Linked DNA regions of Homo sapiens. The protein of the gene in region 1 interacts with the protein of each later gene in a pairwise test. Each region holds a gene or a part of one and is shown on either strand. Other genes may lie near its edges. The genes, in order: RHOBTB2 and RHOBTB3.

Region 1 (7,775 bases):
GGAGTTCTCAGTACAATCAAGGACAGAGAAGAACCCAATGATAGATTGGTGTGATTGGTATTATTAGGGGAGCACAGGGGAAGAACAGGAAAGTTACACTTTGTCAAGTGTAAGAAAGTATTCATGGAAGGCTTGCTGGAGGAAGTGATATCTAGGCTGAGACTTGAAAGATGAGTACACATTTATCTGGTGAAAGGAGTAGAAATAGAGTGTTCGGACTGAAGAACTGCTTGTGCAAAGTCCCAGAAGCTTCCTGTATCCTTGTGGGGACCTGATGGTGTCCCTTAAGGCCTGGACAGGGAGGCTGAGAGACTCTAGGCTTTCCAGATTCAGCTCCTTCACCCTGCTGGGGCTCTGCATCTTGAAATGCCTCTGCTTTTGCTCATGGCTGGTTCTGAACTTTGCCCCAGCTGCAGGGTAGGAACACCACGTGCCCCAGCCTGCACATGGCAGGGGATGGGGGGCGGAGCTCATGTCACAAGGCCCATGGGGTGGGCTCCGCAGAGGCTGTAGTGTTCCAGGAGAGGGGTGCCATGAAAGCGCGGTTAGTAGCCTGCAAAGTGTTGAAGGGTAAAGCTGCCTGTGAAGCAAAGGGAAGGTGCAGGTTGGAGGATGGACTGAGCCAGGCGGTCTGCGTTGGGCTGGCACTGGGAAGGGGCCTTCACAGCCACAGGGAGAGCAACGCTGGTGGGACTGGCCGGGGAGCCTGCTGCGCTTTGCTAAGAGCCAGGATGGAGGTTTCTCTTTCCCCAGAAAAGCCTCCTGTTCACAGGCAGGCATCTGCCCGGCTTCAGGAAAACAGCAGCCGCGTGATGGCCTGGAGGAGGGTGGTGTGGGGAGGCATAGAGGGGGTGCCTTCTGGGGACAGGTTCCAGGGGTTTATGTCACTGGGGAGGTGGGTCACAAGAGGGATTTGGTGAGGGAAGAGATGCTGGGGTTGGGCAGGGGCAGGAGATTGTAGAATGGAACCTGCCTCCATGCTGCCAGGAAGCCCTTGGGCTACAGCCACGCAGCCAGGCACATGGCAGGACATTGCCAGACCCACCAGCAGAAGCAGATTTGGGAAGCCAGCAATGGGGGGAGTCAGTGCTCAGGCTGAACTGCTCCTCGGAATCACACCAGTGTTTCCAAGCTGCAGCAAATGGGCAGAGAGGGCTGGTGTGTGTGTGTGTGTGTGTGTGTGTGTGTGTGTGTGTGTGTGTGTGTGTGTGTGTGTGTGTGTGTGTGTGTCTGTGTGTCTGTGTATGTAACGGAATGGAGGAGGCAGAGAAAGAAAGAGGCCAGGAGCTTTTGTCTCCCACCCAGGCCTGCCTTGAGAAGTCACCTGAATAGAGGAAAATGGACTCCTCAGGGCCTGGGGTGGGAGGGCGCAGTGAAGGGAGTGGGAGGCTTCCTGTGCTGTGAGACGCTGCTGCCTGCCGGGTGCTAACAGCTGGGGACAGGGATGGGCATGAGAAGGCCCAACAGCACCTTGCTTGCTGGTGGGGAAGCCTGGCCTCTGGGAGTGGCCCTGTTTTCCAGGATCTGGCATTGGAGAGATGGGCAAAGATGAAGGGACGTGCCAGATCCTCAGCTGGGGTACCAGGGGCTGGAGGCTGTCTTGAATAGCAGAGTGGGGGTCCCGGGGCAGTCCTGGCCAGGGCTGGCTGGGAAGAGGCCTGGTTTTAGCCACAACTGGGGCACAGGCCGGCGGCTGCAGCTTGCTAGTGGTCTGCCCCTCATACAGCGTGGGGAATGCTGCCATCTGAGCTGTGAGTAGTGAACCGCTGGAGCTCCTCGCAGGCTGGCCTGAGGAGGAGGTCTGCAGAGGTCCCCAGACGGCCTAGGGTGGGACATGGATGGGGCGGCTTGACAGTGACAAGGGGCTGCAGAGGATGGGCTGGGGGGCACTGGTAGGAGAAGGTGGGGACTTGGAGGAACTCTGATGATAAGAGGGAACTGATTGGGGCGCCAACCATGACAGCCCTAGAGGTGAAATGATGGGGAAGGACTTTGATTTGGAGAAAGGCTGAAAGAGGGAACTGCATGCAAAAAGCAGGGCTGGGAATTGAGGGAACCTCCCCAGCAAAGCTCCTGCCTCTGCCTGAAACAGTTCACTGAGTGTGAGCGGGGCGGGGCGGGGGCTGTGGGGGTGCAATTTCATTTGACACCCACATTTTTGTCCAAGACCCTTCCACCCCAATCAACACTACACCTTGGAATTCACACAGTCCAGCCTGGTTGAGGCTTCCAGGCTGAGCTGGCTTTTTCTCCCAAGGCAGAAAGGGCATTGGCTCTAGCTTACAGTCCGAGCAGCCACCCTCTCCTGCTTCATGACTTTGGGTGGACGGGAGTTCTGTCTTCCTACTCCTTGCTCCACAGGGGCTATGGTCCTGCCAGGACAGGTGAAAGGTGATGTCAACTGGCATCTGGCATTCAGCTGGTCTCTGGAGGTGGGTGGAGGGAACAGGGTGTCCGTGGGAGAGACCCTGGCCTGCCGTGGGAATCATGCAGAGATCTCAAGTTATGATTTTCTCTGGCGCAGGGGCTCTTTGGCACACAGAAGATGGGGTAAGTCTCTTCAATGCCAAACATGTGGAGGAAGAACATGTGTGAGCATGGTTTACTTTCTCTCCTAAATATGTATTCAAATAAGTACTTTCTGGTTTATGGAGGGTGAGTTCTAACCAGAAATGAGAAGTAAGTAGCACTGTCAGTCATTGTTAACCTCTTGGCTAGCTCTGAGTAGATTGAGAAAGGGGTGGGAGAAGCATCCTCCAACAACCGAGCACTTCCTGTACATTGACCAGGTAGGTAGGCACGTTGATCACAAACACCTTGAGGGACAGCTTCCAAGTATATGCATTCACAGATGAGAAGCATGCTTCAGACAACACAAAATTCATTTTTAACCCGGCTTTCTTTTGGCAGTAAATTTCTCTTCCTAATCATATTTTGCATAAACTAATATTAGAGTGGATTTGCATTTTCAGAGCACAAGATGGAGGAGTGGTGGAGGCGGTTCAGGTGGGTGGCAGGCTGGTCTGGGCTTTAAAAATTGTCCAGAGGTAACTGAGGAGATGAATCAAACCAGACTGAGCTGACTACTTAACACTAGCAGTCAAGATCATCCTGGCTGGGCATGGTGGCTCACGCCTGTAATCCTAGTACTTTGGGAGGCCAAGGCAGGCAGATCACCCGAGGTCAGGAGTTCGAGACCAGCCTGGCCAAGGTGGTGAAACCCCGTCTCTACCAAAAATACATAAATTAGCTGGGAATAGTGGCGTGCACTTGTAGTCCCAGCTACTCGGGAGGCTGAGGCAGAACTGCTTGAACCCAAGAGGCGGAGGTTGCAGTGAACCAAGATTGCACCACTGCACTCCAGCCTGGGCAACAGAGGGAGACTCAAAAAAAAAAAAAAAAAAAAAAGATTATCCTGATAAAACCAGCCTTGAATATGGAAAGTGTCTTCTAGGGACCCCTCAGGTTATAGATGTTATACCTTAGAATCTCTCTATTTTACAGAGGGGTAAATTGAGGCAGAAAACCCAAAGAAGGCTTAGGGACGATTTTCGAGGCTACTCACTTCATGGTGTTTCTTTCAGAGATTAGCAGCTATTACTGAACTCCAGGAGGCAACAGGAGGGGGATGGGATGGAGGTGGGGACCCGCTGAAGAAGGCCTAGGTGGGAGACAGGTAACGTGGTACAGGTACCCACCCCACAACTCATTAAGGGCCATGGAGGGAGGAAGGCTCTCAAGTGCCACGAAAATTCCCAAAGCAGCAGAGGGCTTGTATGGAAACGCCGGTTATTCGTCCCTACCCGGCCCCCGCCCCCCGCCCCCCCGACTGCCCCTGCCGTCGCCTCCCCGTGGGCAAGTGGTGGGGGCCTGGGCTTACAACCACACGTTCTCCTCCAACTAGCATCCCTTCCAGGGTGCACTAGGATGCCTCTCAGAGGTTCTCCCCCGCCTCCCGAAGGAAAGGGGAAAACCCCGTGGGCGTCCGGAGAGCCTTTGCGCCTCGCCAGGTGGAGGGACCGGCGCCACCCAGACCCGCGAGCCGAGACCCTCCCCGCGGCGTCGCTGCGGGAGGGGCGGAAGAGCGCGGGCGGTGGGCGGGAGCGGTGCTGCGAGGCGGGATCTGCGGGGCGTCCAATCCCCTTCTTCCCCCGCCCGCCCCCTCCCCGCCCCCCGAACGCTTTCCACCAACTGCGCGCGGCAGTGGGCGGGGCCCGTCACGGCTGTCGTCTTGGGTGCGATTTTTTTCTCCTCCTTTTTTTACCCTCCCGTTTTTTTCTTTTCTTTTTTTTTTCCCTATCCTTTTTTTGTGAATGAAAAAAGGAGGTCGCGAGCGGTACCTGGGACTGCAGCGCCAGGCGTCTTCGCGGCAGCGCCTTCGCCGCGGGCCCGGGCGCGTAGCGGCGGCGGCCTCGCCCCTCTCCCGGCGCCCCTGCGCGCCGCCCGCTGCCTCCGCAGCCCGGCTCCGCGCGCCGCCGTGACATTGGGCGCCTGGCGCGCGGGGCGATGCTGATCCGGAAGGGGCAGCGGCTGCAGTGCAGCGCGCGCGTCCGCTCCTGGGCCCACGTCCGGCCTGGGCTGCCCTGCCGGAGTTTCTGAGTGGCCGCGAGCTGGCCGGGAGGCTGGAGCCCAGCAGCAGCGCGGCGGCGCCGGCGTCGTCCCAACTTGCAGGCGCGGAGGGACCCCTGACATTTCACTAAAATGAGCGTGCTCAGCAGGAAGAGATGTGTTCCTCACGCTAGAAGCCACCCCGTCACATGTAGTGGTGTAAGTAGATGGCTGCTTGCGGTTATGGCGGGGTGGCCAGCAGCCCTTGCAGACGCGCCGCTCCGCCCTCCCTGCCCTGCCGCGCCCCTCGCTACGTTCCCCGGGCCCCGCTAGTCCCTGGGCTCTGGCTTCGGCTGCTGGGTACAGCGGGGCTGGAGCCTAATCCTTTCCGGTGTTTCTAGGGAAAGGAAGATGACTTGATTGCTTCGGCCTGTCGTGCCCCTCCCCCTTCTCGATGTTTAAAAATTTTTAAATTTCTATTTTGTGTGTGTGCAGAGTAGCGTGTCAGAAAAAAGGAAAAACGGTCCAGAGTGGTGGGAGTGATTCTGTTAAGAAAACAAACACAAAACAACAGTGGAATTGGGGTGTTTTGCTGGCGGTTCCGGAGCTGGTTCTTTGAACTCAACTCCATTGCAGTCTATGTAACTGAGTTCTGTGAAACTACTGGGGAGATCTTTGGCGGTGTTTGGTGATGTGTCCACATTTTAGGTTTGAGGGGGCTTATCTGTGTTTAGGCTTGCATTTCTTTAATCTGACCATTCAGGGTCCCTTTGGGCCTTGCTTTCTGTTGGATCTGCACGGGGCTTCTTGCAATGCCAGCGACCCCCGTGGGAGCCTCCCCGAATTAGGAGTCCACTCTCTCTTTGTTCTTCTCCTTCCAATTCTCCATTCAATCCATCTCCCTTGATTTTACCTTCATTTTCAGGATTTTCCTCCCATTCCCATTTTGTAAGATGATGTGGGATACTGGTTGCTAGGAGACAAGCCAGGCTCCCAGGGAGATTCTGTTGTTTCCTTGACAACCAGACTAGGGCAGCCACAGATGAACAAGCCTCCTATCAGCTGTGGGAGGGAAAGGGGCCCTTTCTGAGCTCTGCAAAGAGTGTGTGTAGGGGTGTGGGGGTGGGACTGGGAGAGCACGAGGTTTGTAGCTAATTTCAGCACACCTTGGGTTTTGGCTTGCACCAAGTACAAAGAGCTGGGAGAGCGGTGGGCAGGAGGCTGTTTTTGGAGGGGCACAGGGATCATGGGACAGGGATGGAAGGAACACATGCCAGTGACTTTGCGATTGTCATGGAAGAGGAGTGAGTTGGGGGTTGTGATGCCCAGGGCTGGGTGGTGAGGAGGTCATAGTTTATGGAGGTTGATTGAGTGGGGATGAGGCAATTGTGAGGGAGAGTCTGGAGTCAGGGAAGAAGAGAGAGCCGGAGGGAGAGGGGAAGCTGAGAGGCTCACTGAATGGGCTGTATCACCATATATCAGCAATGAGTGGGCTGTATCACCATACATCAGCAATGATACAACATCAGCAACATCCTAGGGCAAAAATTATATTACTCTTGGCACACTCTCTCCAGGACAGGATCCTCCTTTAAGACAGGCCTGATTAGACTAAGAGTTCTAACACTTGAATTGGGCCAGTCTGTATCTTAAAGACAGATATAATTACACATATAGATATGCAATCTAGCATTATATAATACCACATTACATAAGAAGACAAATACCTCCTTTCAGCCCAGCCTCTCTTGGCACAAATTAACCACGGTTCAGGAGACTCTTCCAATGTCTTCATACCCATTTCCCAGAGGGGGAGACTGATGCCCAGAAAATATAAGTGACTTGCCTCTTCCTAGATAGGACAGTGAAGTTTGCCAGTCAGGCAGTTGGGACAGGGTAGAAAGGGTGAGATGATACAAACAGAGAGGCAGCTGAAGGACAAGGGGACTGCTGAAGGGGCTGGGGAATGGATGGAAGGGGTTGCGCAACCCAGAAGGTCTGATGTCTAAACTCATGGCACAGTATTTGTCAATTTCCACTTGTTGATTGGCTGACCACTGCTTAACTCTAGAGGTGACATAGCACAGGTGGGCAGCAGTGTTTTCATCACAAAGTAGCTGAACTTGGCCCAGCACTGCTCTGCTGGTGTTCTGGCATTATTCTCACTGTCAAGGTGCTCCTGAATTTGAGAACTGGCATCCCTCCATTAGGCCTCCTCATTCCCCCGCTTCTGTCTACAGACCTACATGCTGGGAGAATCGGAACTTGAGAAAGAAGTTCTTTTGGCTCTTGGGTTTTAATCTTTATCCTCCAGCTGCACATATTTTGTATTTGGGATTATATCTGTTTTGGTATTCACTCGACAAAACAGAAACCACAGCCCAGATGCTGCCTCCTGGCGCCAGCACATTCCTCAACTTGAGATCAGGAACTGTCAAAGTGGGGTTCCCGGTCCTCAGTTCAGGAGAGAGAATTGGGAGGAGGAAGCCTGTGGTTAGAATAACAGTTCTTAACAGTTCTCTGGGCCAGGTGTGGTGGCTCACGCCTGTAATCCCAGCACTTTGGGAGGCCAAGGCGGGCAGATCACTTGAGGTCAGGAGTTTAAGACCAGCCTGACCAACATGGCGAAACCCCGTATCTACTAAAAATACAAAATTAGCCGGCATAGTGGCACACACCTGTAATCCCAGCTACCTGGGAGGCTGAGGCAGGAGAATCACTTGAACCCAGGAGGCAGAGGCTGCAGTGAGCCGAGATCATGCCACTGCACTCCAGCCTGGGTGTCAAGCGCAAAACTCCGTCTCAAAAAAATACAAAAACAAAAAACGGTTGTCTGCTGAGGGAGGGTTAGGAGAGAGAAGGGGTGGTACAGTTGCCCTGGAGACCATGAGGGCACTGCATGGAGACCTCGTTGAAGGGTCCAGATCCTGTAACATTCCAAAAAGGCGGAGGAGGTTGTCTCATTGAGAAGTCCTTGCTGCACTTTTTGCTTAGGTTGCTGAGATGCATCCACTCGCACGGATCCCAGTTGCTATCGTTACTTGGATATTTCGGTCTGCATCCCTGCATGCTGGCATCCAGTTACAGCCCAGCAGGAATGGAGCCTCCCTGTTGTTGCTGGTGGCCTGGCTCTGGGCTGGATGGCTCAGCAGCCAGGGTGCCTGGGCAGCCTCCAGCACTCAGAGCTCAGCCTTCCTTAGCCTAGGAGGGATGACTCCGGGCTGCTA
Region 2 (8,191 bases), on another chromosome or scaffold:
ATGGGAAAGAGAGAGAAAGACACACTAAATAATGTGCTACATCTAATGAATCTGCAGCACATTTGTTTTAAAAGTGCCAAGTATATAAGGCAAGGATCCAGGGTAAGGCTAAGGATCTATAGAAGAGAACTAGGGAAGGGAAACACAGCTACCTCATTTCAACTTCAAGGCAACAACAACACATCTCTTCTCAAACTATGCCAAAGAGAAAATACTCCAAAGATTTCTAGAATTATGAAGAAAATCAAATTCTCCCACCCCTTGTAAATCAGTTCCAGGGTTTCCTCTCGGGGTTATGCAACACAAGGCTTGGAGCCACATTTGGAGAATTGAACTCATCTTTTAAAAAAAAAAATCTGAATTTCTACAGTGAAACTATTTTATTTTACTTGATTGTGGGGCTGCATGTATGAAGTATGAACATCGCTGCCCCAGTGTACTGGTACTGTAGTTGTATAAATCTTGAATGACCTGTGAAAATCTTACTTTTGCTTAGTATTAATATAAGTGATACATAACTAAAGTTGTAACACTTTATTTTTATATTAGCTACCACTTATAGAGCATCTACTAAATGCCAGCCTCTATACTTAGAACTTGACACGTGCTAGTTTCTCATTCACTTCTCAGCACAGCTTTAGGAGGCATATTATTTTATAGATAGGGAAAATAAGGCTGAGAGAAGGTAAGTGATTTAACAAGGACACACAGACCTGAAATGGCAATGTGGGAATCTGAAATCAGATCCTTTTGATATCAAAGGCTATGCTCTATCTGCTCTGCTATATTTAATATTCTGGTTCCGTACATACGTCAAATAACAGTTGATTAATGCAATCAGCTTTAGAATCTCTGATGGGCTTTACTTACCACCAAGTGAAGAAAAGCACCTTATAAAGAGCAACTCTAGAAATGGAATCTCATATCTGAAGATCATTATAACCTAGAAAATTGTACCTGGTTACAAACTTGGTGCCTTAAATAGGGCCAGAGTCTAACCAAACAAAAAGTTATTAGCAAGATAAACCATAACAACCAGCATATGGCAAAAATCCGTACTATAGAGGTTTATTTTCTCCATTTGGAAGATTTCATTTTACTAGACAAAGTGTATGGGATCACAAGCATTACTGTTTGCAAAATTAACAGTATAAACAGGAAAGTGTTAACAGCTCAAATTAAATACGGGAAAGCAATCCTAACATCCTAATGTAGCTAGTTTTATTTTCCCTACATTTACTCGATTCGCTAAACATTTATTCAACTGCATGTTGAACCGTCATGTTTTTAGGCTGTAAGATCTTTCACAACGAAAGATCCCAAGTAAAAGAAGTGTTTCATTTGCCTGCATAGACTCTGACCAGTAAGTTCTCCATCAATACTTCTTATGAACAGCATCATCACTATCATAACTAGGGGTTTAATAGTATCTCTTAATTGAAAAGGCCTGTTTTTTATTTTACCAAATTAACATAACTTTCTTCTTTAACTGAAAACTTACACGAGCGAGTGATCTTTTCGTTCTGTTATGTGGAACTTTGCATAAGAAATTTTTCCAAGTATATTCTACACATTTTTTAGAATGGCGTGATACTTTCCTATAGTCCTAATTCAGTTTTTTTAATATTGCTGTTTAAATGTGAAATCTTACACAACGATAATTTGTATCTTTTCAGGCACTAAACTTTCTTCTGTTATTAAATGTAACATTTAGCTGAAACATACGTAACTCCAATATCAGTAAAGAATCAAAGATTTTCAAATAAGACTAAAGGAAAACATTCAAACATAATGTTATTGTATGCTGAAAATATTTATATGTGTCAGAAAGTAAGTTCCTTTCTCCCTTAATCAAACACTCAAGAATCGGACTATAATTTATCCACTTCACTACTATTTTGTTCAATTATTACAAATTTTAATTTTTTAAAAGTTTTCCAAACAACATTAGTAATGTTATTTCTGATTTATGAGTCACTAAGACAAATGGCTAACACATAAAGAGTATTTGCATTATTAAAATTAAGTTTTCAGAGATCAATTAATAGTGCTATAAATGAGTCATTTAAAATTAACTCCCAGTCCCTGTCTTTTCCTCCGCTTTCCAGAGGAACTATTTCTGAACTGTCCCAGTGAAAAGTATTTTTGCCTGTGTTGAGCTTTGAGAGGGATGTATTTTTAGAACACCAATATTACACTATCACCCATAGGGTAGACATAAAAAAACACTGCTTTTTGCTGATGAAACTTAGTGACCCCGTCCCTTGGAGTTGGCACATTCAACTGTCTGCTGCCTACCAAGGGTCAACCCACAGTCGTGAAGTGTACCAGTAAGTGCTCCACATTCCCACTGGGGCCTTCTATCTTCCTAAGAGTGTTCTCTGACAGGGCTGTTCCCTGCCCAGTGAAACAAAGGACCAAAGATTTTCTCAAAAATGTTTAAAAATTTGACCCATGTAACGCGGACACTCCACACTCACGGAAGTGGGCAGAAGGGGGAGGGGGAAAAAAAAGGAAAGAAAAGCTTCTTCAGCCTCAGCGCGGAGCAGCTGCTCTTCCTTACCCAGACGGGACAGTCGTGGACCACCAGCTTGACATTCCCAAACGCACTGGCCTGATACTCGGTGAACACCGGACGCGCGACCGTGCTGGCCGCGTTCAGCAACAAGCTGCTCTCGTCCCCGGAGACCAGAGGGCTTCTCCCCAGGTAAGTGCGGATAAGCCCCGACGGCCGGTTGTCCTGGTGGAATGTGTCCCCCTCGTTCCCCAGCGCCACGATGTGGATGGACCTGCACGGACAGAGGGGGCGAGGGGAGAAGGGAAGCACGGTCAGCGCGCGGGTCTCTCCTCGGAACAGGAAGTGCGGGGGACAGCGCGCGGCGAGGATGGGCACCAGCCCCTGTCCCTGGGGCGCACGGCACGCGCTGGAGAGAGACAATGGCAGGACGGCGGCGCGTACGTACATGATCTCAAATCCAAGGGCAGGGCGGCGACTCGGAGAAAAGCAGCGGCTCACGGCTTCGCGGGGCCCCCGGGCGGCGAGTTCACCCGCAATCCGCTCATCCCCGGCCGCGTCCCCCTCGCGCGCCTCCACCGCGGCGGGGCCGACGCAGAGCGGGGCCGGGGCCGCGCCAGCCAGCGAGCGAGCCGGGGACCAGGGCGGGCTAGCGGGCGGGGGATAAGCTGCCGCTACTCAGGGAGTGCCCGGGAACATCGCCGGGCGCGGGACCGCCGCACAGCCCCAAGTGGACGCAGCTGACCGCAGTCCCCTCTCCGCCGCGCCTCCTCGGCTGGCAGCTGTCGCCTCCTGCTGCCGCTGCCGCTGCTCCTCCTCCTCTAAGCAGAGAAGGGGGGTCGGGGAGATCGGGGCCTCCGCCCCCTCAGCGGACCGGGCGCAGCACGTGCCAGCCCCGGGGGTCGGGCGGATGCGGGGGACGCGCTCCCCGCGGAGGCCCCGGGAGCTCCGGTGGCGGCGGCTGGACACAAAGGAGCCGCCCGCGCGGGGCGCCGCGGAATATAAATTAATAAATACAACGCCCCAGCCCGAGAGCTCCCAGCCGCCAATCCGCCTGCAGCAAGTTTGTTCAACTCGCAAGGCCGTAACCAGAGCCAGGAAAGGGGGGTGGGGCGATGGGGCCCCCGCTCACTCCGGACTGGAAAAAGGAGGTTAGGGAAGCTAGGGATTCCAGCCCGAGTGCCGCCCCAGCAACCCGATTTCCCCCCCTCTTGGCCTTGACCGAAAGTGCTTTACCACGTCTGCCGCTTTCTCATTTGTCAACATGCGCTACAGCTGTTTTCTAAAATCATACTTGTGAGAAAAAATAAAGGCAACATTCATGCTGCTGCAGAAAGAGTTCTTTGTTCACACACCAATTAATTTGCTAATGTCGCCTTGGGGGGATTATTTACTATTTCAAGCTATATTTAGCGTATTTTACCGAAAACTTCAGGATTTTAAATGCTGGGATTTTTAGTGTGATCGTTTTTAAAGGAAGTTATGTATGGGGGTTTAACGTGTTGGTAAGTTAAATGCCAGTTTACTTGGAGATTTTTCTGTACACGTTATGGCCACATATTTAATAATAGCTCCGCAGACCAACTGAAAACATAATCACGTAAATGCAAAGATACTTTAGATTCTTTCATAATAATGCACTGAAGTAAAGGCTATGAATATCCCTAACGTGCTTCAAACTACCTCGATACAAACGAACACTGGGATCCACTTACTAACACCAAAATGGGCCAGGGATTACTCTGGGGTTAGACTCCTCCATACAGTATTAAAATTCTAACCAGTACCTTACTCTGTGTTGAAAAGAGTTCTTGCTTATCCTTTTATCTGTTTATTTTTCCCTTCTGTAAAATTGGACTGTTTCTTTTCTCAGCTGAGCTATTTTGAGGGTATGAAAGAGGGGGTATTGAGTAGGGCAGTAAAAAAACTAGGGCAACAGCTTTTTATTATGGGCCCTTATTGCTCGGTTGAAAGTAGTTTAATAGTTTCTCGTGCTCAGAGAGGATATAATGGGAGATATTCTTTATGTGGTCACTGTTTTTTTTTTTAATCTAATTTCCCTTTGCATTTTCTACGATTTCTCTTTGAGTCTCTAGAACCTAAACCATCCTTAAAAATTCCAGCATGCAAGATCACTTTTTCTCTTGGGTTAATAGAAAATATATTTTCTCATCAGTCTTTTCCGGAAACCCATAAGTCAAAAACAAAGACACTAGAATGGATGAATGGATAAAGAAAATGTGGTATACACATGTAATGGATGATTAGCGTTTAAAAAAGAAGAAAATTCCTTCATAAACTACAACATGGATGAACCTTGAGGACCTTGTGCTAAGTGGAATCAGCCAGTTGCAAATCACAAAAAGTGATTCCATTTATATGAAGTATCTAAAGTAGTCAAACTCTTAGAAACAGAAAGTAGAATCATGGTTACCAGGGGCTGGGGAGAGGGGAAAAGGGGGCGTTGTTCAACAGGTATAGTGTTTCAGGTTTGCAGGAAGAAAAAGTTACAGAGATCTGTTGCATGAGGTGCATATATAGTTCGTACTATACTGAACTATAGAACTGAACGCTAGAACATTGTTAACTAAACACTAGAGCGTGTACTGAACACTAGAACATGATTAACATGGTAACTATTGTTATATTTTATGACAATATAAAAATATTAATACAAAAATGAAACAAAAATAGACACCAAAGTTGCTGACAACTTGGAAGTGTCAGAAAGGGAGAAAGTATTCATTTTTTCCTTAGTTACTCAATAGGTGAGCCAAGCCTGTGCTGGGTAGGCATAGGAGATCCCAAGGTACATAAGACTTGGTCATTGACCTTAAGAAGCTAAAGCAATTTGTTACCAGAAAGGGGTCCCAATCCTGACTCCAAAAGAGAGTTCTTGGACCTCCAGCGAAGAATTCAGGGCAAGTCCATAAAGTGAAAGCCAGTTTATTAAGAAAGTAAAGGAATAAAATAATGGCTACTCCATAGGCAGAGCAGTGTCATGGGCTGCTCGACTGAGTATACTTATAGTTATTTCTTGATTATATGCTAAACAAGGGGTGGATTATTCATGAGTTTTTCTGGAAAGGGTGGGCATTTCCCAGAACTGAGAGTTCCTCTGCTTTTTAGACCATATAGGGTAACTTCCTGACATTGCCGTGACATTTGTAGACTCATTGTGCTGGTGGAGTGTCTTTTAGCATGCTAGTGCATTATAATTAGCATATAATGAGCAGTGAGGTTGACCAGAGGTCACTGTCACCACCATCTTGGTTTTGGTGGGTTTTGGCCGGCTTCTTTACGGCATTCTGTTTTATCAGCAAGGTCTTTGTGACCTGTATCCTGTGCTGACCTCCTATCTCATCCTGTGGCTAAGAATGCCTAACCTCCTAGGAATGCAGCCCAGTAGGTTTCAGCCTTAGTGTACCCAGCCTCTACTCAAGATGGAGTCATTCTGGTTCAGACCCCTCTGACATATTAATTAGTTTGTGAATATTAGCACACTCAATCCTTTTGAAAACATTCTAGTTCCTAGACCTAGGCCTAGGCAGTCAGTAAAAGAGATAGGTACAAAGGCAGTCAGTAAAAGAGATAGGTACAAAGTAAAAGATAAGTTCAGTGAATGTTAGGAAGAGATCTGTGCTTTCTGTGTCAGAAGTTCATAAAGAAAGTAAACATTGTCTTAGGTCTTAATAGATTAAGAATTTGTTAGATTTGGAAGAAGAGGAGGTTAGAAGGGAAGGAGTATTTCAAAGAACTGGACAGACATCACATGCAAAGGTATAAAGAAATGGAAGATCATGGCTTGTCTTAGGAACAGCAAGAGATGAAGTTAGTGCTGGCATGAAGGTTTCTATATTAAAGCAGGCAGAAAAAAGAGTGGTGGAGGCTTCCCAAGAGATTTCTGGAGTCATACCTGGTGATACTTAAGCTACAAATTGAGTATCTGGTACAAAGCCTGGCTACATACTCACCAAACCTGTTTTCTCTTCCAAGATAGCTAAATGACGTTTCTCAACTTTTGTGCATATAGGTAGGGCCACATGATTAGTTCTCATCAACGGAATATGATCCCTGCTGAGCAGTAGAGAAGTGTGTCTCTCCATTCTCTTTTATCTTCCTGTCTCAACCACATGAAGTCAGGTCAACCTTGAAGCCAGGTGTTTGAAGCTATTAGCACTGCAGTGTGGAACCAGTCCTTGAATGACTAGTTACAGCAGAGCCTCCTCACAGAATGCATTGTACTGTGATTTGAGTGATAAATAGATATTCAGTGAGTTGAGCCAGACATTTTGAGGTCAATTATTACAGCAGTTAGTGTTATTTATCTTGGCTAAAAGAATATCACAGATGGTCCATTTCCTGATATCCTAAAGATCTTTTCATAATTTTCTTATGACCACTTTTTTAAAGTTATTTCCCTTGTATTTTAAATTTTTATTTGGTTTATGTATTTGCAGTTTCTCTCATCAGCACATTTAAAAAATTTTATTTTACCAGTGTTAACAGAACAGATATCACATGTCCTCCAACCTCAAGGTCACTGGGGAACACACAGGAAGGGCTTCCAACCCAAACAATATTTTTTTCCTATTTTAGTGGCTGAAATGCCACCATTTCATATTTACTCTATTAGATGTTTTTATCCCTAAATAAGATGTAGCATAAAGTACAGTAAGGACATGTAAAGTAATTCAGTGGGCTATTACTAGTCCCCAAATTGTGAATATTCATATACCAGTTTTTGAAAAACGTGTTGGTTCCTTAACAGCTGGAGAGGAAGTAAGCATTGGTGAGGGCAGGCCTAGAGATCTCGGCTTGGCAGAAGATTTTTTCCAACTATGTTTTAAGGAAAACTAGGTTTGCATAGAAGAATCTTCAAATCAGCTTGAGGAGGTGGCAGAAAAAGAGTAAGCAGTGAGATCTGAACTCTGACAAAGGCATCTTAAAGCCAATCAGAGCAGTCTTATTGCTGTCTTTTAAAAAAATATTAAAGTTTCATATTCATTTTCATTAAAAAGATGGGTTTTCTAAGGTTAAAAACAAACGCAATTTTTAAGACTACTTATCTAGAGCCAGAGTCTTCAAGGTGGGGTACAGAAGATGATCCCTGAAATTCCAGAATAAACTTCTAATCACACACATTATTTTTTACTGAAAAAAAAAAGGGGGGAAACGAAATTAAGCTTTACTACTAGTTAATGTTGGGATTGATGCTGGTACCCCAGGTTGACCAGTAAGTGGGCAGATACAAGGAGTGTTGGGGGCATGGCAGCAATAGGATACACAGTGAGGGGCAGCGGGAGGGCTGCCTCCTTTGTTCACTTTCAATATATTGCCACATGTTGCAGTTTCTGTTTCTAAGGAGACTTATGAATGATATTTAAGTAAACTACTGTTACAGCAGGAACCAAGGGAGACAGTGTTAAAAATGCAAGCACAAGCAAAAACCCCCAGCCAAGCTGATGTTTCTGATACTCTTTGGGAGCCACATTGCAAGGTAAAAAACCGACGACTAATCAGATTTGCCAAGAAGTTGACCAAAATAATGGATTATAAAGAACACTGTTTTAAGTATGAATTTACAACCATTCTTGCTAACATTGATTTCACCCTAAGTGCATATTATAGTTAATAGACAATGATATTCTGAACTGATTACAATTAGCTAGCAAC

Evidence for each region.
Region 2: the proteins of RHOBTB2 (region 1) and RHOBTB3 interact in a two-hybrid assay, tested with the Homo sapiens proteins (one study listed by BioGRID).

The regions. Positions count from the first base shown.
Region 1 is NC_000008.11:22,995,339-23,003,113, forward strand, and holds the start of RHOBTB2 (rho-related BTB domain-containing protein 2), read left to right. Parts: upstream 1-4,209; 5' UTR 4,210-4,767; intron 4,768-7,775. UniProt on the Homo sapiens protein: Regulator of cell proliferation and apoptosis. It likely functions as a substrate-adapter that recruits key substrates, e.g. MSI2, to CUL3-based ubiquitin ligase complexes for degradation. Required for MSI2 ubiquitination and degradation.
Region 2 is NC_000005.10:95,726,457-95,734,647, reverse strand, and holds the start of RHOBTB3 (rho-related BTB domain-containing protein 3), read right to left. Parts: upstream 3,313-8,191; 5' UTR 2,966-3,312; coding exon 2,964-2,965; intron 2,956-2,963; exon of another isoform or gene 2,790-2,955; coding exon 2,564-2,789; exon of another isoform or gene 2,546-2,563; intron 1-2,545. UniProt on the Homo sapiens protein: Rab9-regulated ATPase required for endosome to Golgi transport. Involved in transport vesicle docking at the Golgi complex, possibly by participating in release M6PRBP1/TIP47 from vesicles to permit their efficient docking and fusion at the Golgi.